3 linked regions of the Homo sapiens genome follow. The protein of the gene in region 1 interacts with the protein of each later gene in a biochemical or structural test. Each region holds a gene or a part of one and is shown in the gene's direction. Other genes may lie near its edges.

The links. Proteins that work in one complex are often made in the same cells at the same time.
Region 2: the proteins of PRPF40A (region 1) and HTT form a complex in vitro, tested with the Homo sapiens proteins (2 studies listed by BioGRID and IntAct, with this or other methods).
Region 3: the proteins of PRPF40A (region 1) and MECP2 form a complex in vitro, tested with the Homo sapiens proteins (2 studies listed by BioGRID, with this or other methods).

The regions. Positions count from the first base shown.
Region 1 is NC_000002.12:152,651,461-152,658,484, reverse strand, and holds the end of PRPF40A (pre-mRNA-processing factor 40 homolog A), read left to right. Parts: intron 1-464; coding exon 465-596; intron 597-1,343; coding exon of another isoform or gene 1,344-1,361; exon of another isoform or gene 1,362-2,086; coding exon 2,087-2,179; 3' UTR 2,180-6,753; downstream 6,754-7,024.
Region 2 is NC_000004.12:3,203,666-3,210,689, forward strand, and holds part of HTT (huntingtin), read left to right. Parts: intron 1-341; coding exon 342-483; intron 484-2,830; coding exon 2,831-3,010; intron 3,011-3,141; coding exon 3,142-3,318; intron 3,319-3,615; coding exon 3,616-3,692; intron 3,693-5,107; coding exon 5,108-5,246; intron 5,247-6,161; coding exon 6,162-6,284; intron 6,285-7,024.
Region 3 is NC_000023.11:154,094,709-154,102,284, reverse strand, and holds the start of MECP2 (methyl-CpG-binding protein 2), read left to right. Parts: upstream 1-4,567; 5' UTR 4,568-4,619; coding exon 4,620-4,681; intron 4,682-5,315; exon of another isoform or gene 5,316-5,472; intron 5,473-5,503; exon of another isoform or gene 5,504-7,576. UniProt on the Homo sapiens protein: Chromosomal protein that binds to methylated DNA. It can bind specifically to a single methyl-CpG pair. It is not influenced by sequences flanking the methyl-CpGs.

The DNA.
Region 1 (7,024 bases):
TTTGAATTTGTGCATATCTAATGAATAACCATTTAAGCACTAACGTTAAATTTTAAATAATTCCTACTCAGCAATTTCAAGAAAATAATTTTATTAATACAGCTGTCTGCCTTATGTGTTAAAGCTAACAGCAGTATACTATGTACATATATAAACCAATATTATATTGAGTTGGTGAGAAATGTAGTATCTGTCTGTATTTACATAATAGATACTACACATCTATTATGTGGTAGTAAGTCTCATGAGTGGTATTTTATCCTTCAGAATATTATCCTTCCCAAGGGAAAGCTGTCCCCATGAATCTTGGGTAAATTTTACTAAATCCTTGAGGTTAACAATTCACATTTTATTTCATCTCTCTAAGAGCACATAACCTGTTACACATAGATGTTCTTAAATATTACCTATATAACAATGGTATCTTCATCAAAATGCTAACCTGTTATTTTCTATTCATACAGGACTCTCCAGAATCCGATGCTGAGCGAGAGAAGGATAAAAAAGAAAAAGATCGGGAAAGTGAAAAAGACAGAACTAGACAAAGATCAGAATCAAAACACAAATCGCCTAAGAAAAAGACTGGAAAGGATTCTGTAAGTATTTAGAATTGTTTCATGCCTGTATTTTCAAAATGCAAAAATGTATTCTGTGGTTAAACCATGATGGTGTTGAAAGAATAGGCTTTTTTCCAGGTGTGCTACCATTGAAGAAAACAGTGAAAATTCAGTTAAGTACATTTCACACAATATCATAGTTTTTGGTCATGCATGATCCTAGATTTTATTCTCCTAAATTTGATATTTTTTAAATATAGCATTTCATAACTATAGCCTTATTAACTCACTAAGAAAGGATATGGTCACTAAGAAGTGCCACTGGACATTTTTTACCTAATTTTCAAATTTTTTTTTTAAGTGAGAGACTAAATCTGGGATTCTACAGATGTCTACAGTTGTCACTGTTATTAAATCCTTTGTTTCAAAAGGTAGCAATTCCAGTAACTTTTAGAAATACTGATTTGGGGTGGAGGAAGGGCAAATAAATAGGAGAGGAGAATATAAGCCAAAGTTAGTATTTCAATAACAGATTACATAATTAGTCCTTTTCAAATATATGTATATATGAATGACAGAGCCTAATAATGCAAATGCTGTGGGTTTAGCAAGGGTAAATGCCTATGAATCATCACTGGAGAGCATAAACTATGTAGGTAAAACCCTATTAGGGATCTCTGGATATTCTGATTCGTTGGTATAGGGTGGGTTTTTTTTTAGAGCTGAAACAGGTGAGTCTGAGTCACATCGTAAGTGAAGAGTGAATGTTTCCTTTGTACTTTCTAGCAGCTTATGGTGGGTTAAATGAAATCCCTGGAGTGAATGAAAGAGGACGATATGGGAACTATCCACTTTTCAAAGGTTGTGTCTTACGGTGCAGTATTATTTTTGTTTGTTCAGCCTAAATCTTGTCCTGCTCATTAGTCTTGTGTATTTATTTGGCACAGGAATCCATATGCTTAAAGCATACTACTTCTGTTTCTGTGATAATACTTGTGGAACCAGGGGGAAGCTACAAAATTAGCAAGGAATAGGCCAGGTGCAGTGGCTCACACCTGTGATCCTAGCCCTTTGGGAGGCCGAGGTGGGCAGATCACGAGGTCAGGAGTCGAGACCAGCCTGGCCAACATGGCAAAACCCCATCTCTACTAAAAATACAAAAATGAGCCGGGCTTGGTGGCAGGCACCTGTAATCCCAGCTACTCAGGAGGCTGAGGCAGGAGAATTGCTTGAACCCAGGAGGCAGAGGTTGCAGAGAGCCGAGATCGTGCCACTGCACTCCAGCCTGGGTGACAAGAACAAGACTCTGTCTCAACAAAAAAATTAGCAAGGAATGTATTATCTAGGAAATGAATACCTGGCTTCCATTAAATGGAAATATTGCTTCATATTCACACAGTCTTTAAACCCTGTGAAATGTGTTTCTTTGGAAGAGAGTTTATATAGATATTGGATTCTTTTTTCAAAGGCTCAGCCCGTAAACCTCTGAGTACTGATGTCAACTATAATTGTAATCAATGTCTTTTCAGGGTAATTGGGATACTTCTGGCAGCGAACTGAGTGAAGGGGAATTGGAAAAGCGCAGAAGAACCCTTTTGGAGCAACTGGATGATGATCAATAAATTATACCAAATATATGTTTACAGTATGATTTAAAGTCTGATTCAGACCAGGGACTCTATTTTAAGTTCAACTGAAATAACACTGGGTTTTAATTATATCACAGGAAAAAAAAAGTGCATTTAAGTATTGTTATCGTGGACTTTATAAAAGCAAAGGAAATTGAAAGTAACTTTTGATTCTGTATCAAGAATCATATTTTCATACAGTCATAACTGTCTTTCTGTGACCCTTTCACAGGGCACTGTAGGATGGATTAAAGGTGGCAATTTACTGATAACTGCAGATGTCTCTACTTTGTTCTAAAATCTAAGTCATGAGGTGATTTGATTTACTTTATAGAAGCTGGATTTTGAAGATCTAATGAAAAATTTTTTGATAATATAGTAGTACAAAAAAAGCACCAGCAACTGATAAAAATTGCTTTTTTGTGCGCTACCCAACTGGTTAAAGCCAATGTGATCTTTTATGGTGAAACTCCTAAGAAACAGGTGGTTTTGCTGGAAACTTGGTAGACCCTTAATTATAGTGGTGCTAATGAGCACTACTGTAATATAAAGCCACCATTATTTTTTATCAAACATCTGAATACATTTTACAAAGGCTATTGTGAGGGCATTATTTTGAGCATCTATTTTGAGGTGATGTTTAAAAAAACTTTAACATCAAATCAAATTGTAAATTAATTTAAATATATTGCCTTAAGGACCTACTAAAGAATGTGCCACCAGACTTTAAGTGATAGTTGCAATATCCTTGTCTAAAAAAAAAAAAAAAGTTGACTTAAACATTTTCTTTAACAGTTGTCTTTTTTTTCTAAATTCAGTCTTTCTCTTGCTTTTTTTTCCCTGCTATTGAGGAAGTATTTTGCCTTCCCTACTCACTGAGAAGTATTGACTTCGTGGTACACATTCTAAAGCATTTCTGATTTGAATATTTTTGTACATTTTTATCAATTATTAAACCTTCTCTTCTAGTGTGTACTAGTATTTATTTCTACTTAAACTGCTCAGCTCTAAAGAAATTGTATGATCACTTTAAAGGTACTAAATCCCTGAAATTTTGCTTCATCTTACCCACACCGCTAGTTTACTTTCCTTTTTTAATATTTAAGAATATTATAAATCAGTGCATTTGAGGTCCCTAGATTTGTTTTTCACCTATGAATTTTTTACAGACTATTTTAGAGAGGCTGTGGTTTGAAGACAGAATACTCTTTACATGCTAACTTTTGAAGGTTGGTAATGTAATTTATACTATTTTCCTTCAGTGCAGGAGATTTTTTAAGTAAATAAGTAAATTTTAGCACCTATTCTTCGGTATTATCTGTGTTATTCTTTTAATGTGTACACTTGAAGAGATCCTATTTCAAAGTTGGGATTTTGAAGAACAAAAAGTTTTTTTCTTACCCATCCTAGTGAGTTTTGAAAGTGGGCCTGACCAGAATGTCTCTTTCCCATTTTGCCCCGTTTGAATTAAATATAATGTCTACTCTTTAAAGGCTGAAGGGGTGGGTGAGGGGATTGTTTCTCATTTTGTCTCCCAAGTCATTTTTCTGCTGTGAAATATGACCAGGCTTGTAGGAAGACTCATCTTGGAGAAAATGTGAAGTAATCAAATTGCTTGAGATTAGTCTCCTATTGTATATTAGAGCCAAAACACATAATAACTTTGGCAACAGGGAGTTGTCTAGACTCAATTTTCAGAGGTCCCATTGTAGTGAGTTAATATTGCTAATCATGTCAATCACTTGACATGGAAGTCAGTGGCAAATCTTTAAAGTATGCATTTGATACTGGCAAATATATACTACTGATGTTTCACAAAAGAATCTTAGAATCTGTAGAAAACATTAATTACTTCCATGAATTATTTCTAAAGTATAACTTTAAAGTTTTGATTTTTCTATTTAAATAAAAAGCTATTGATGTGTTTTAGCATGTCCTCAAAATAGATTCCTGTATTTCTTACAGAGATAATCTTACTATAACCGCAAATCCCTACAACACAGTATAAAGTTTCCCTGTAGTTCACCCATGAAAATTATTTGACTTAAAAACAACCATAGTAGTAAGCCAATTGCAATTCAAAATGCAACATCCTTGCCATAAAAGATGTAACTTAAGTGACTGTGATCCTTTGTCTACCTTTCAGGATCCCATCAAATGGGATTTAGTTGCTAGAAAGATACTTGACAGTCTGAAGGCACAGGTGATAAGATTTTGTTCTCTGTGAATATTTTTAAACTAATAGGTTATGTTTTTAAATCTTCAATTTGGTAAAAAACTGAAACGTCTTGGAATATTGGTTCTATTAGAGTTAAATATGGTAAAACAGGAAAGCGTGTTTATTTTCAGATAAGGGGAATTTATACTTTTCATTAAAGTCTTGGAGTCTTAGGAAAATGTTGAGGGTTTGTCTTCCCCCAGTGTCATTAATACTAATGAACTATTAGATCAAATTCACTTATACATTTAATATCATAGTTATTCAAAATCAGGACTTTAAATATTTTTTTCTCCCAGTTCATATTTCTTTGTGCGAAAATTGAATTTGTATGAAAAGTTAGATAATTAAGCTAATCAAGTATGAAGTATACACTCTTCCTAAGTGAATTTAAATAATGTAATGCTTTTAAATAAAAGCAGTGGTCCCACCACATTTTTTTCAGCATAGTAGCTGGCATTTTGTTATCATTAGCCAGAGTAGCTTCAGCATATAAGTTATTGATGTTTTCCAACTTCAAAAGTGCATTTTATGCCTCCCAGTAAATTTGATAATGATTTGTCACAGCTTTGTCATCTTTTGACTTTTGCTTATGGGCCTCACTTCGTACAACTATAACATGAAAAAGGATTGTCCTAAAGTAAGGGAATCAGTTAATGGTAGGATGAAGAAACTGTAAAAACTCCTAGAAAAAAACCTGTGTGCATTTTTCTGGAAAGTTTTCAAACTGTGTAATTCAGTTTTCATTCAATTATATAATTTGGTTATATGCTTTAAAAAACATTTGTCTAAATGTTCCCGGTTTTCTTCTGGTCTTAGAGTCAGCTGAGTGCTGGCTATGCAGCCACTCGTATTTTTGCATCCAGAAAGGAGTAACTCCCTTTATATGAAGATTTTTTTTTTTAAGCTTAGATGCTATGTAAGAGAAAACTATTTGTAATCACATAGTACCCAGGGAGGAGTGATGAATGCTTTTTTAAAAAAGGATATTTAAGTATATTATGTAATTTAAATATAAATTATCAAACTAAAAAACTTCAGCTTTTAAAACTTTCTAAACAAAATGAAGCAAAGTACATTAATTCCTTCTATCTTAAATCTGAGACTTTTTATTTTCCCTTGGGTATATATTTCTCTCAGTGTTAGGTAGATGTTAATTCAACCATCCTACATTCTCTATATAAAATTACACTCATTTTACATGAAAGCAAAATAATGTCGTTACTTTCATGGAACTGTGTTCTAACAGGCTTATAATCTCATTCTGTGCTTCTGGTAATGGCGTATACCAGTCTGATGATTCTTACCATCCTTATTCTTACATTACTCTTCCAATTGTTTTGATTTTAACTGGTGGTCATGTAAGTTCCTCGGTGGCAGGGATTTATCTGGTTCATTTACTGTTATATATCCTTGTGGAATAGGACAGTGCCTGGCATATAATAGGCACTTTTGGAATGAATGTAAAATACTAGTTGAAATATGTATTCATCTGGCATCCATGGTACCCATCATCTGTATTAAAGGGCTTAAAAAAGCATCATTGCAATAAACCATACTAACCCACCACTAAAGTCACAGTCATAATTGAAGTGCACCCAAAATAAGGTCCAGTGACTGTACCTTAGCTTTTACTTCAGACATGTCCAAAACTTGTGAGAACATACAATTTAAAGTTGAAAACTCATCATTTTGGGCTATTTTTGAATAGGGCTGAAATATGGTGACATGTCAGGCACTCAGTTTTTTGGAGCTGTCTTAAAGGTGAGGTGGAAAGTGAGAGATGATTTTGCTCTAATTACCCACACATTCTCCCTAACCCTCCATTTTAAGACACTTAGCTATAATAGCTTAAGACTATCAAAACTGCTTTTGTGATTCTCAGTAGGATCTAGTTCAAAGCCATCTCAGTGCTAGTGATTGGTAATTGTTAATTTGATGGTAATTACCCTACTTGTAAAGTTGACATTCATACTGGCTAATCCTCCCTGCCCCTAGTCGTGGACAATGAAACAGTGAGTGGCTGGTGAATTAGATCAGATTCAAACTAAGCCATTCCTTGATGCTATTCTTCACTGCTGTTCCTTAGGGTATCTAAATGTGTTATTTATAAACATTTTTGGGGGCTCCTGCCTGCAAACTTCGGTAGGTGTTGGTCTTCCCCACCTCTACAACTGAGCCAAGGACTTGTTCTGAAAGGTGAGTAATAAATAAGGGAACAAGGTTTCTATTTTCTGTGTTTGTAATTACCAGATTTTCACCTCTGTTTATATATTATTCTGATGTAAAAGAACCTCATAGTTATATAAAATTAGACCTTTTGTAAATAAATATAATTTATTAGAAAAAATGGTATCTTTTACTAAATTGGATTTGTGTCAGTTTTTTCCTTTAAGCACCACTCAGGCAGCAAGCTCTATGCTGTGAGAGTTGCTGGAGGCCCACGTTATGTTTTCTCAGTGTAATTCCTCTTTTTCTTGATAAAAAGACTTAAAAAAAAAAAAAAAACCCATCACTGATTTCACGTACATGTTTGTTTCTTCAGATTTTTCTTGGGCATAGATGGGCTGTTAGTTTAAAAAGAAATGGAAAACAAATCCTTTTGATGAAATCTGATAAAT
Region 2 (7,024 bases), on another chromosome or scaffold:
TTTCAAAAGCAATTGCTCAATTATCAAACATAGCCAGTGTGAGTTCTGAAATAAAGGTGCTGATTGAATGTGCAGCTTTATGGTGGATTTTGCTATTCAGGCAAGCATTTTAATTTTCTGCCTGTTAAATTCTGTTTTCTTTAGTTTTTCATATGTGGTTTATTGTAGCTTAGGAATAGATAACTGAGAGTATATATTACACATACAACATTCTGATATGGCAATATTTAAAACAACTTGTCTGTTTTAGAACTAGAATTAAACATAATCATCTTCAGTATTTTGCAAATAAGCTCACTGCCATCCAGAAACATTGTCAATGCATCTGTTGCTCCTTCTAGAAGACACAGTCTGTCCAGCACAAAGTTACTTAGTCCCCAGATGTCTGGAGAAGAGGAGGATTCTGACTTGGCAGCCAAACTTGGAATGTGCAATAGAGAAATAGTACGAAGAGGGGCTCTCATTCTCTTCTGTGATTATGTCGTAAGTTTGAAATGCCTGTAAACGGGGTTGAGGGAGGTGGGGACCAGGAGAACATCCTGTGTAGATGACACTTGCATGGACCCTCTGGAACCCAGACCGCCCGGTGTCCTGCCAAGCTCCATCGAAACTAAATCTAGAATGAATGTTTACTTCTGCTGTGACATATAATTGGAGACCAGGCCTGGCCTTCCAGTCACTGGATTCTAAGTTGGACTGTGAGAGTTTTTGCAGCTGACTCATTTATCAAATGCCCGGCTATTGGCTCACGCCTACATGATGCTGGGTATGTTTGTTAATTTGAGGGAAGCAATGGAATAATAATAACTAATGATTTAAAAAACAAAGTAAGTGCATTGACTGTAGTGGGGTTCTGATTTTAAATTTTTTTAAAAATTAATACCAGGAGCAGTGGCTTATGCCTAAATTCCAGCAACTCGAGAGGCTGAGGTAGGAAGATCACTTGAGCCCAGGAGTTTGAGACAAGCCTGGGCTATGGTGTGAGACACCCATCTCTAAAAAAATAAAAAATAAAAAATTATCCAAGTGTGGTGGCTCGTGCCTGTAATCACAGCTCTTTGAGAAGCTGAGGGCGGAGGATGGCTTGAGCCTGGGAGTTCGAGACCAGCCTGGCAACACAGAGAAACCCTGCCTCTACCAAAAAAAGAAAGAGAGGAAGAAAGAAAAATTAGCCTGGCGTGGTGGTGCATGCCTGTGGTCCCAGCCACCTGAGAGACTGAGAAGGGAGGATTGCTTGAGCCCAGAAGTTTGAGGCTGCAGTGAGCTGTGACTGTGTCACTGCACTCCGGCCTGGGTGACAAGGCGAGACCCCTGCTCTAAAATAATTTTTTTAAGTTAATTTGTAGAAAAGGTGTTAGATGTTCTTTGTCACATTTTATGATGGATTCCTGTTTAAATGCCGTTCTCTTTAAAGAAAAAAAAATAACTTGTGGGAGTTTTTAACCATAAAACTAGCATCACATATTTACCATGGAGAATTTACAAAAAAACAAATAAACGGAGGAAAATAAAACCTCCTGTAATCATACTACTCAGAGATAACTTGCTGTTAGATTTTGGTCTAGATTTAATACTTTTTCTATATTTATATTAAAAATATTTAAAACATATGCATTTCTTTGTCACAAACATGGTATCTTATAGATACTACTGTCACATAGCAAAACAGTGTTAAATATTCTGAATCAGAAAAGGAAGCCGACTCTCCAACTGAAAGAGGTGTTATCCTAGAGACTTTTTCTGGTGATGACAATTTATTAATAGTCACTTTTTGCTTTACTTTCTCTATTGAAGTAGTTTTTCTATTTTGTTCTACTTTTAAGGATAATATAATTTATAATGCTGTTTTTCACAGAAATATAAGAAAAAAGATACTAATTTTATAAGTTAATAAAGTTTGATCATCCCAAATCCAAAAATCTGAAATCCAAAATGCTCCAAATTCTGAAGCTTTTTGAGTGCTGACATTATGTTCAAAGGAAATGTTCATTGGAAGGTTTCAGATTTTCGGATTTAGGGAGCTCAACAAATAAGTATAATGCACATATTTCAAAACCTGAAAAAAATCCTAAATTCAGAATACTTCTGATCCCAAACATTTCAGATAAGGGTTATTCAACCTGTACTGTCAGATGATCCCAAATGAAAAATATTAATCGTTAACCAAATATCAAGGAATTGATCACATTTTACAGTTTCTGCCTAGGATTATGAATCAAGATGAAAAGGCTCTGCATGTTTAAAAATATATATTTTTATTTTCTTATAAATCTTAAATATCTACACTTAAGATTTATTTGATATGTGGGATCCATTCATATTTTGGATTCAACAGTTCTGTCAAAACTGTGGCAGTGATAGGGGATTCTTTTTTTCCCACTGAACTATCACAAAATTGGAAAAAGAGTAATTGGAGAACCCCACTGGCTTAGCCGGCCCGAAGCCCGGGAGAGGGCAGGCAGTGCTGTGGATGGGGTCATCCCAGCGCAACGCTGCCCCTGCTACCTGCGGATCTCGCTGAGGCCTGCCTTTGTCCTTTGACCCTTGGCCATTTGTTAGTGTCTCTGAGAGCTGGACTGCTGTACCCTACTTCCCCAGGGGGCCTAACTTCACACAGCCTCTGCCGCAGTGCGTGGTTGGAGGTGACGGCCTTGGTAAATCGAGTTTCCTACCTCCTCAATTATTTGTGCTCATACACTGTATATTTTTAGTGAGGTTTATATTTGGGATGTGTTTTCTCCTTCTTACCCTTTCTGGCCTTTCTATGGCATTAATACCTGGTCTCTTCTTGTGTACTTGAAAATGAATCTCTCATCATATTTTTCCTTAGTGTCAGAACCTCCATGACTCCGAGCACTTAACGTGGCTCATTGTAAATCACATTCAAGATCTGATCAGCCTTTCCCACGAGCCTCCAGTACAGGACTTCATCAGTGCCGTTCATCGGAACTCTGCTGCCAGCGGCCTGTTCATCCAGGCAATTCAGTCTCGTTGTGAAAACCTTTCAACTGTACGTCTTCATCCTGCCGACTATTGCCAGTTGCAGTTTTCCCTGCCTTAAAAATGGAGTATTGAAATTTTTAACTTTAATTTCTGATTTGCAAAATAGTCATCTTTTGTTCTTTTCCTTCTTGCTGTTAGCCAACCATGCTGAAGAAAACTCTTCAGTGCTTGGAGGGGATCCATCTCAGCCAGTCGGGAGCTGTGCTCACGCTGTATGTGGACAGGCTTCTGTGCACCCCTTTCCGTGTGCTGGCTCGCATGGTCGACATCCTTGCTTGTCGCCGGGTAGAAATGCTTCTGGCTGCAAATTTACAGGTATTGGGAAGAGAAACCCTGATATTGATTTATATTGAAAATTTAGCAGGCCAAGCAAAACAGGTGGCTGGCTTTTTCCTCCGTAAGTATGGTCTTGACATGGTCACCGATAGAAACATGGAAACATCTGCAAACTTGCCGTTACTCGTGTGTCCGATCTGACTGTTTCTTGTATTTTTTTCTAGTCTGCCCTTACTAGGATGAACTGTACACATCAGTTCATCCTTTTTAAATGAGCATGAGGTTATTTTGGGTTGTTAGGTGTTACAAACACACTAATGTGTTTTTGTCTATTAGAGCAGCATGGCCCAGTTGCCAATGGAAGAACTCAACAGAATCCAGGAATACCTTCAGAGCAGCGGGCTCGCTCAGAGGTAATGCTGGAAACACAGGTCGTCCTTGTGTTAGGACAACCCAGGATATAAAGGATATAGATTTGTACGGGAATAAATTCACAGGACAAGAAATCGATGTGCCTTATAGGTGGGTTTACTGCAGAAGTGCCATAATAGAACCTTCCTACTTTTAAAACAACCAGATCTCACTTTCTAAAGAGTAAAGGATGACCGGCAGGATCACGTCTGTGACGTGAGTGGAGGCAGTTTGCACTCCTGGTGGCTGTTTGAGAGGTAGCATTTAGAATGCCTGTATTCACTGTCCTGTGATGAGTGGGAAAATAGGTTATCAGGTTTATCTTAGCAAAATCAAAGCATGTCATCTAATTGCTAAACAAGAGTTGGCAAATCTGAGAGACATTACTCAATCCTTGGCATGCAGGACTTACATCTGCATCCTGTTGCCATTTTATGTCTTCAAAGCATTTAATCATTTAGTTGTGTTTGCAAAGTCTTTGAGAAGCCTTTGTCAGAAATCCCTACATCTCCTATGTGAGTGTATTTCCATGACTGCAGAATAAGTTAAACTTTTACCTTTTTCCTTCCCTTGCGGGGCGGGGTGGGGGGCAGGGATTGTGTGTGTGAGAGGGAGAGAGAGACAGCAGAGAAGGAGAATATAATTATCATGCTGTGTACTTTGAGCTGAAACTGCAAAAAAGGAAAAACACACAAAAATTATTATGCTTTTCAGTCTTTAGAGTACCTTGTCTATTATGCTTTTCAGTCTTTAGAGTACCTTGTTGATGGTGTTTTTAAATGGGATTGGGCACAATTAGGTGGACAGTTTGGGATGATTTTTCAGTCTGTAGGGCCAAGCTCTTTTGTAATTTGCATTATGAAGTTGTCACTCTCATAGCAGATGGCGGGAGATAAACTATTATTACTTTTTGACCCTAGACTTAGTCTTCAGTCCAGATGAGGGAGATTAAAAGATTATAAATATCTTGTGCCAGATGAGGTGATTTTATTTTGAAATGACCATGAATTCCTATCAGTTGTCTTACTGGGATATTTGATAGTGGAATTTGTGCATTTGAGTCTTAGATGATCTGTTTTACATTTATTAAGAAAGCCTTTATTAGCTTTTATACTGTGTATTGCCTGTTGCAGTGTTTGAGTATAAATGAAATTTCTGGAAAATATTAATGGAGTACAAACTGTGATACTTAAAAGTAAACTAGGGCCTGCATTTGTATCATGACCTGTTTGAGTATTGATGAGAAGATAGCTGTGAAGAAAAAGGTTTAAACAAGTGTATTTTCCTTTAAGAAGCCACTAATAGTGCATCTCCTTAGAGTGTATATTTCTAGAATCCTAGTGTGCAGAGTTTAGACTAAGACTAAAAAAAAAAAAAAACAAATTATACTGTAATTTCATTTTTATTTGTATTTTAGACACCAAAGGCTCTATTCCCTGCTGGACAGGTTTCGTCTCTCCACCATGCAAGACTCACTTAGTCCCTCTCCTCCAGTCTCTTCCCACCCGCTGGACGGGGATGGGCACGTGTCACTGGAAACAGTGAGTCCGGACAAAGTAAGTGTCCAGCGTGTCTGCATGGGAGGCACAGGGCGCTGAGTGCCTCTGTCACCTGTGGCAGATACAGAGAGTGCAGAGGAGGTGCCGTGGACCCAAGGAGTTCTGGCGCTCGGCTCGGCTCAGTGAAGCTGTGGTTAGAGACGTGGGGGGCCATCAAGGTCTGAGGGAGCCAAGCAGTGCTGATGTGGGACCCTTTTGGTAGGAGTGTGGGGTGAGTAGTTAGTGGGTGAATCAAGGAATAGTCGGCCGTGGCCTGCAGGCCCCTGACTGCACAGGCCTTCAAGCACATGTCAATGCCGTTAGCCTCCCTCCATCTCCTCATACCTTCTGGCCACCTGTGAGTTGCACTGCCACTGCCAGCCATTCTGGTATGTTGTCAGCACCTCCACTGCTCATACCTCATGGTTAGGGACCACCTGGAGCCTTGGTAGAGCCTTGGTAGAGCCTTGGTACTCTACTTTCCTGGACAAAGTTCAGCTTATGAATATGAATTTAGATTTCAAAAACCAGCAGCCCAAGTATAAGAAAGCGAAGGTTCAGTCCTGCCTTCTTAGGCTCTATTCGCTAAGCACCTGCCCTGCCCTGGTTGCTGGGGAGAGATGAGTAAAGCAGACAACCCAGGAGAGGATGGCAAAGGGGCCGCTAACCCTTAGTGGTTTAGCTATATTTGGAAGGCCTATTGGAAGTTCACCAGGTGAAGGGGGAGGCTGTGAGGGTGCCCAGGCAGGTAACAGAAGTCCAAAGGGGAAAACCTGTGGTGTGGTGAGCCGTATAGCCACAGCCTGCCGGCCGGCAGCCCTCTCAGCCTAGTGCGGTGTTCCCAAGCACTGGCCTAGGCCTGTAGCTCCAGGGATGTGAAGTCCCCTTGAACGCCGCCCATCATGTTCCCCTTATCCATTTTTTTCTTCCCAGGACTGGTACGTTCATCTTGTCAAATCCCAGTGTTGGACCAGGTCAGATTCTGCACTGCTGGAAGGTGCAGAGCTGGTGAATCGGATTCCTGCTGAAGATATGAATGCCTTCATGATGAACTCGGTACGGGGGGAGCAGTGGAGGCAAGGAATCCTCAGCTTTTCTTGTGACTTCCAAGTGGGATTTGTCTCATCATCATGTGACCCACTTGTTGACAACACATGTTGGGGACTCCAGTCTGGGCAGGGACGGGATGTCGGAGAGACTCCACTCTGAATGGGGCCGGGAAGTGGGGAGGACTCCATTTCAGATGGGGTCGGGACATGGGGGTTATGCTGATCGAGACAGAAAAGCACATTGTTTCAGCCACATTAGAATCCACGGAGGTGTTGTTTTGAAATCCAGCTGGCCCCAAGGCTGGGTGTATGGTTTGGGATGAGAACTATCTGGCCTCCACTGGAGGAACAAACACAGGATGTTATCATCTAAGCTCCATGGCCAAGACAGAATGGAAGTCAAGGTTGCGTATTTGCCGTAGACTTCAACACAGTGTCGTAATGCGTGACGTCAATAACTTGTTTCTAGTGTCTTGGAAGTTGATCTTTAGTCGTAAAAGAGACCCTTGGATGCAGCGAGATTTCCTCTACTCACACCTCTGTTAGATGTAGTGAGGTTCTTCACCCCCCAACCCCAGATGTCAGAGGGCACCCTGCGCAGAGCTAGGAGGCCATGCAAAGCCTTGGTGTCCCTGTCCCTCACCCGTGGGCAGGTCCTGTGAGCAGTGGGGGGGCCACCTCTTGGGTATGGTGCAGCCATGGCCCAAGCAGGGCTTCTTCTCAGACCTACTAGGACGGGAGAAACCT
Region 3 (7,576 bases), on another chromosome or scaffold:
TTCATTCATGTTGTCTTAAGTGACAGGATTTCATTCTTTTTTATGGCCGAATATTATTCCATTGCATATATGTACCACATTTTCTTTATCCATTCACCTGTTGGTGGACACCTAAGTTGATTCTGTATCTGGCTATTGTGAATAGTCATTCAATAAAAATGGGAGTGCAGATAACTCTTCCACATACTGATTTCATTTCCTTTGGATATATACCGGTAGTAGGATTGCTGGTAGTTCTATTTTCAATTTATTGAGAAACCTCCATACTGTTCTCCATAGTTGACTATACTAACTTACTACCCCACCAACAGTATGAAAGTATTCCCTTTTCTCCACATCTTTGCCAACTTGTCTTCTTTTGTCTTTTTGATTAAAGCCATTCTAACTGAATTGAAGGGGTATCTCATTGGGCTTTTGATTTGAATTTCCCTGATGATGAGTGATGTTGAACTTTTTTTCCCCTCCCTCCCTCCCTCCCTTCCTTCTCTTTCTTTTTTCGAGACAGGGTCTCACTCTGTCACCCAGGCCAAAGTGCAATGGCACGATCCTGGCTCATTGCAGCCTCAAACTCCTGGGCTCAAGTGATCCTCCCACCCCAGCCTCCCAAGAAGCTGAGATGACAAGTGTGCACAACCATGCCTGGCTAATTTTTTGTTTTTTTAGAGACAGTGGTCTTGCCATGTTAACCAGGCTGGCCTTGAACTCCTGGACTCAAGTGATCTTCCCACCTCGGCCTACCAAAGTGCTGGGATTACAGGTGTGAGCCAAGGTGCCTGGCGAGATTTTTCCCATATACCTGTTGGTCATTTAAATGTTTTCTTTTGAGAAATGTCTATTCAGGTTTTTTGCCCTCTCCTAACCTTTTATTTTATCTATCTATCTATCTGTCTGTCTGTCTGTCTGTCTATCTATCTATCTATCTATCTATCTATCCATCCATCCATCCATCCATCCATCCATCCATCTATTTCGAGATGGAGTCTCGCTCTGTCACCCAGGCTGTAGTGCAATGGCACGATCTCGGCTTACTGCAACCTCCACCTCCCAGGTTCAAGCGATTCTCCTGCCTCAGCCTCCAGAGTAGCTGGGACTACAGGTGCGTGCCACCACGCCCGGCTAATTTTTTTTTGTATTTTTAGTAGAGATGGGGTTTCACCATTTTAGCCAGGATCATCTCAATCCCCTGATCTCGTGATCCGCCTGCCTCGGCCTCCCAAAGTGCTGAGATTACAGGCGTGAGCCGTCGTGCCTGGTCACCTTTTTTTTTTTTTTTTTTTTTTTAAAGACAGGGTCTTGCTTTGTTGCCCAGGCTAGAGTGCAATGTGCAATCATAGCTCACTGCAGCCTCAAACTCCTGGGCTCAAGTGATCCTTCCACCTCAGCTTTCCAGGGAGCTGGGACTACAGGTGTGTGCCACCACGTCTGTCTAATTTTTAAATTTTTTTTGTAAAGACGGGGTCTTGCTTCTTGCTATGTTGCCCAGGCTTGTCTTGAACTCCAGTTCTCTGATTTTTAAAAAAAATCATAAGTAGATGTTGAATTTTATCAAATGCTTTTTCTGCATCTATTGAAATAATTATGTAGTGTTTTTCCCCTTAAGTTTGTTAAGGTTGGGTTTCTAATTTTAAACCATATTTGCATTCTTAGGATAAAACTCAACTCGGTTGTGATAGATCATATACTGCAGGATTCAGTTTATTTGTCTAGAATTTTAAAACTTATTTCCACATCTTGTGTCATACTTTTCTTGGCTCATCATAGTAGATATATTAGTCTAGTAAAATAAGTTTGGAGACATTTATTTCTTTTCTGTGTATGATTGGAATTGCCTACTCATTAAAGATTTGGTAGAAGTCATCCATAAAGCCCTCTTGGTCTGTTTCTCTCTCTCTCTCTCTCTCTCTCTCTGTGTGCGTGTGTGTCTGTGTGTGTCTGCGTGTCTGTGTCTGTGTGTAGGAGGATGGGTAGCTTTTTAAATACATAGTCAATTTCATTGTGGTTACAGGGATTTTCTGTTTCTAAAGTCGGTTTTGGTAAGCTGTACTTTCCTAGGAATGTATTCCTTTTGCTTATGTTTTCAAATTTACTGACACACAGTGCATAATAAAACCTTTTCATGAGTAACATAATTTACTTTTCTCTTTTCTCTTTATATCCAGCTTGTTAGAGGGTTGGCTTTTGTTTTTCAGCTTTTCAAAGAAGCAGGTTTAAAATTTTCTCAATCCTCTCCATCATTTGTTTCTATTTCATTAAGTTTTATTCATCCTTATTTTTCTTTCTTCTACTTTTGCAGGCTTACTCTGTCATTTCTTTATGGCTTCTTGAATTGGATGTTCAGCGTGATGACTTTTGGACTGCTTTAGCCGCATCTCTATACTTCAGCATCGCACACCCAATGGCTTACTCAACATCTCCACTTTCACACCACTGGGCACCCCAAGCTTAATACAGCCAAAGCAGAACTCTTGATCTGCACCTCTGAAAATGTACTTTTCCTGTAGTTCTCCCCACTATGGTGAAAAGCACCCTTATTTCCCCAGTTGCTCAGGCCCCAATCTCAGGAATCATCCTTGTTTCTTCCCTTGCTCTATGCCCTACATCCAATCCTTTTGTTCAGTTCTGAAAACATATCTTGAATCTCACAACTTCTCAGAGCTGCACTGCTGCCACCCTAGTTAAAGCTACCATCAACTCTTTCTCCTAGACTGTTCCAGGGCCTTGCAACTAGCCTTGTGCTGTAGTTTTGTTTCATCACGTCCAGTTCTCCACTCTACACCTGCAACATAGATCAGACAGCTCCTGGCTCAAAATCCTCTGAGGGCTTCTCATCTTAGAATAAACTCTCGGTTCTGGCCGGGTGCGGTGGCTTACGCCTGTAGTCCCAGCACTTTGGGAGTCCGAGGCGGGCGGATCACTTGAACTCAGGAGTTTGAGACCAGCCTGGGCAACATGGTGAACTCCCATCTCTATCAAAAATACAAAAACTTAGCCAGGCGTGGTGGTTCGCATCTGTGGTCCCAGCTACTTAGGACGCTGAGGAGGGAGGATCGCTTGAGCTCAGGGTGGACGTTGCAGTGAGCCAAGATTGCGCCACTGCACTGCAGCCTGGGTGACAGAATGAGACCCCATCCCCACCCCCCCCAAAAAAGAATGAACTCCCAGTTCTCATAGTGGCCCCAGCTGCCTTTCCAATCACATTCCCTACCACTCTCCAGCAACACTGACTTCCTCGTTAGTCCCCAACATGCCAGGCATAGTCTCTCCTCATGTCCTTTGAACTTGCCTGGAATGTTCTTTCCCCAGATATTCATATGAGGGAGTAAAATGAGGGTGAAAACCAGCAGATATCTAAATAGCACCCCCTTCACTTAGTTTATCTTTCTCAAAGCCCTTATCACTATGTGAAATGATATATTATACTTATTTGTATGCTAGTATGAATCTTCCCGGCAAGAATGTTAGTTTGCTGTCTGTTCAGTACCGTGCATCCAGAGCCTGGAAGAGTGCCTGGCACATAGCAGGTAGTCAATAAATGAATGGGGGCAAGCAGCCAAATCAGAATCAGGTTTTCTTGCTAAGCATAGAACTAACAGAAGGATCATTGAATGGATTGGATAATGACTGGCATCAGGGTAAGGTCCCCTTAACAAACACTCCTGTCCTGAACACCTGGTTAGCTAACAGTTTTCTCATACTCTTATTTTCCCAAAACACAATTGCTGGATCTCAGCTCCAAATCAACTCTTCTAGGAAAGTGAAAAATTGCTGGATCTCAGCTCCCAAATCATATCTTCCAGGCAGAGCTAACATTGCCCCTTATTCACACCTCCACCAAACCATCTGATCCAACAGTGACAGGTGTCACGAGGCCTTGGCATGCACTCTCTTCCCCCGCCAGAGTTCTGCGAAAGCCAGGGTTGCGATTTGTTGTCAGTTTATTCCCCGCCTCTATGAGAGTGTGAGCACTGGGCAGGCTCGGATGAAATAATGCATTGAGTAGGCCTCTGAAACCAAGGCCCCTCAGCTGGGGCAACGTCAGGCTCCAGGGTGGGCAACTTTGCTGCTTCTGCCGAAGATAGTGATATTGAGAAAATGTGGGTGCAATGAAACGCTTATTGCAGCGCACTCGGTGCATCTGTGGACAGAGGGTCAATCGCCCCTCAGAGCAGCGCAAACAGGCGTCCCAAGCCTAGGCCTTCACTTGCCCCAGCATCCGCAAGGGTCCATTAATCCTTAACATTCAAATTCCGCCCACTAAACCAGTCCCTCCGCGCCCAAGCCGCCTCTTTTCCCCAAACGACGGCCGAAAGCAGCCAATCAACAGCTGGAGGGGTCCGCCCCCTTTTCCCTGGCCGAAATGGACAGGAAATCTCGCCAATTGACGGCATCGCCGCTGAGACTCCCCCCTCCCCCGTCCTCCCCGTCCCAGCCCGGCCATCACAGCCAATGACGGGCGGGCTCGCAGCGGCGCCGAGGGCGGGGCGCGGGCGCGCAGGTGCAGCAGCGCGCGGGCCGGCCAAGAGGGCGGGGCGCGACGTCGGCCGTGCGGGGTCCCGGCGTCGGCGGCGCGCGCGCTCCCTCCTCTCGGAGAGAGGGCTGTGGTAAAAGCCGTCCGGAAAATGGCCGCCGCCGCCGCCGCCGCGCCGAGCGGAGGAGGAGGAGGAGGCGAGGAGGAGAGACTGTGAGTGGGACCGCCGTGGCCGCGGGCGGGGACCCTTGCCGGGGGGCGGGGGTCAGGGGCGGGACGTGGCGCGGGAGGGGCCCGCGGGGTCGGACGACACGGCTGGCGGATGGCGTCCCTCCTCTCTACCCTCCCCCTCCCGCCGCCGCCGGTGGCGACTCTCCCCTCGGCCCGTCACCCCTGCTCGCGGGTGACCGTCCTCGGCGCGGCCTCCCTGGAGCCGCCTTCGCCTGACGCCCCTCTTCCTCCCGCCCTCGACGCGCATCCCGGCCCCCGGCCCCGCGGGCGCCCCTGTCGCCGGGGCTTCGCCTGTCGGGGCTGCGCGCGCTCCTGCCCTTCTCGGGGCTTTGGGCCGCGGCGCCGTCGCGCGCCCGCGGCCCCGGCCTCTCCCTGGATCGCGCTCTCCCCCTCCCTCCCTCGCGCGCCCCCTCTCCCGTTACTCGGCCCCCCCACCGGCGCGCGTGCGCACTTCGCCTCCCGTCGGGAGAGTGCGCCACAAGGGCTCCTGAGCTCTCACCCCCATCTCTGGGCTTTGCCTCCCCCTCCTTCTCGCCCATTCCATGAATTTCTGCCCCCCGCTACCCCCCCGCGAGCGAGTAGGTCCACCGGCTCCTTTCCCCATCTAGCAGGAACAAGTAGGTGGGGATTATTATCCACAAAAGGGACTAGACATTGTGTTCTGGGTCCCACAACTCATCATAAAGAGGTGGTTATAGTTCCCATCAGGAGCCGTGGGTAGGGGACTGTGCGTCCAGCAGCACCCGAGGCTCTTCGGCGCCAGAGGCTCTAAGGTGCGAGCGTGTCCCCAGGGTGCTCAGAGGTTCTTTGGAGTGCTGTGGCCTCGGAATGTGAGCACCCTCCCATCCTACCCTCCCCTTCGCCGGCGATCTTCCAGTTACATAAGTGGAGTGGGACATAGTAGGTAACGGGCTCTCATCGCCCTGGAGCGCTCGGGATCACCGGTACCAGATGGGGCAAGTTCATCGCGACGCTGTGGCTCCTGTTAATTGTGCCTGAAAGGTTATCCTCTGTTCAGTTTGGTCATGACCGAATCACCCAAACTGAAACTCAGATGACTTTTATATGGCAGTGGCAATGTTTCTGTGGTTTTGCACTAAAGACTTAAGGTCATTATGAAGAGTGTAAAAGGATTGCTGTCGCAGGGGAGACCGTTTATGACATTGCTAAGTATGGACCCCGAGGGGGAAAAAGCTCATTCTGGAATTGCTCTGTGGCGGTTGCTTCTGTTGCGAGTGTGTTCGGGTGTGGGTTGGTCACAGCAGAAATGGGCTCCACCACAAAATTGATATTCCTGACTCATGGTCAGGCAGATGTGTGCTTCTGGTTATTTTTCCAGGAACAGGAATGGGCTCTGCCGAGCCTTTCACACGTTGTGTCTCTGCTGTGCGGGATCAGTACCCCAGACTGTGAGATAACAGGATCGAATTCAGGGGTTGGTTGGTGATCCAGGAACCATACCTACTTGGATGTGATACTGAGTGGCCTAGACGTTGTAGGACTCTCATAAGTTTTAGACATTTTGTTATACTGTAAAAATGAAGCATATACGGCCTCAGTAGTAACATTGCACTAATAGGTAATTATTACTCTAGAGAATTTTGGGTTCCATGGCTGGAATGTTCATCAGTATCTCAGCAATTTCAGTTAATAACCAGATTAAGCTGACCTCTTGAGTCTTTTGAAATCTGCTGGGTCCCTATAATAAGACAGGGTCTGGATTTTTTAATCTTTTGGGAATTTCCACCAAGGATTTAGGGAAATAGGCTTTTATGGGCTTTTCAGGATTTCTATTTCAAATCCCAATGAGGAAGTCTAGGAAACACTTGCTTTTATTTTCTTGCCTGAATATGTCAGAACCTTAAATCACCCAATCAATCTAGAAGTACTACAGTTGATTAAAGTAAGTCACCACAGGTCACCCATTCGTGGCAGGTCAGCTAGGTGGCTGATCACTGGAATACAGTCATATCCCCAGGCATACACACGAGCCTCACTTGACGATCCCAAAGTTTGTACATCTGAGCTTGAGACGTGACAAGTTGAGGTCTCTGCTTTGTTCTTCATAGTTGGCAGTTTGTCTCCTCGGGTGCCCCTCCGGTTAGCTGTTTATCATACGTCTAGCCCTATCAACAGTGCAGGCAGCTTCCAGAGTATAGTTTTCTCTGCAAAGTGCCTGGTGGAGGGGTACCTCCTTTTCCATTGTCCTAATGGCTCCACTGGGCTTCCATACCAGCCCTTTCCAGTGTCTTAACAGCTCAAAGAAACCCATCTGTGGCTTTCTTGTTAGCACTGGCCTATCACACCTTCCTATTGCCTGTTAACTAAAATTTTGCCTGGAATGCTTTAAGCTTAGAGTACTGGGTCTTTGTTTCACCCGATTGATAGGAGAGTGTCATGCAGTCAGCCGAACTCCGACTTCTGTGCTGTTTAAATCCTTAGGTAGGTCTGGGGCAAGGCACAAACCACTGTGTATTCAAAGGGTTATGGTGCTTGCATTCTGTGTGTATATGTTTGTAATTTCCAACCAGAGTCGTTTCCCGTGCCTGCCCTGCCTCTGTGCAATCTAGTCTAGTAGGGTAGGGAGGCAAGCTGTGGAGTTTGAAAAAAAAAAAAAAAAGCTAGATGAGTTTAATAGGCTGTTACCCCCTCCAGAACATTCCTCCCATGTGGAGATGAAACGAGAAGTTCATTTCTTTAACCTAAAATAAAGAACAACAGAGATAAAATTGTTAGTTCCTTATTGGAGCCTGGTTTCCATTGCTAATGTACCTGCTTGGGACTCTGCATGATAAATGACGTGTCCTGGAACCTGAAATCTTTTATAAAGGTTAATATCAGCAGAAATCTTTTAATTAGCTAAGAGCAGCTTGTTCT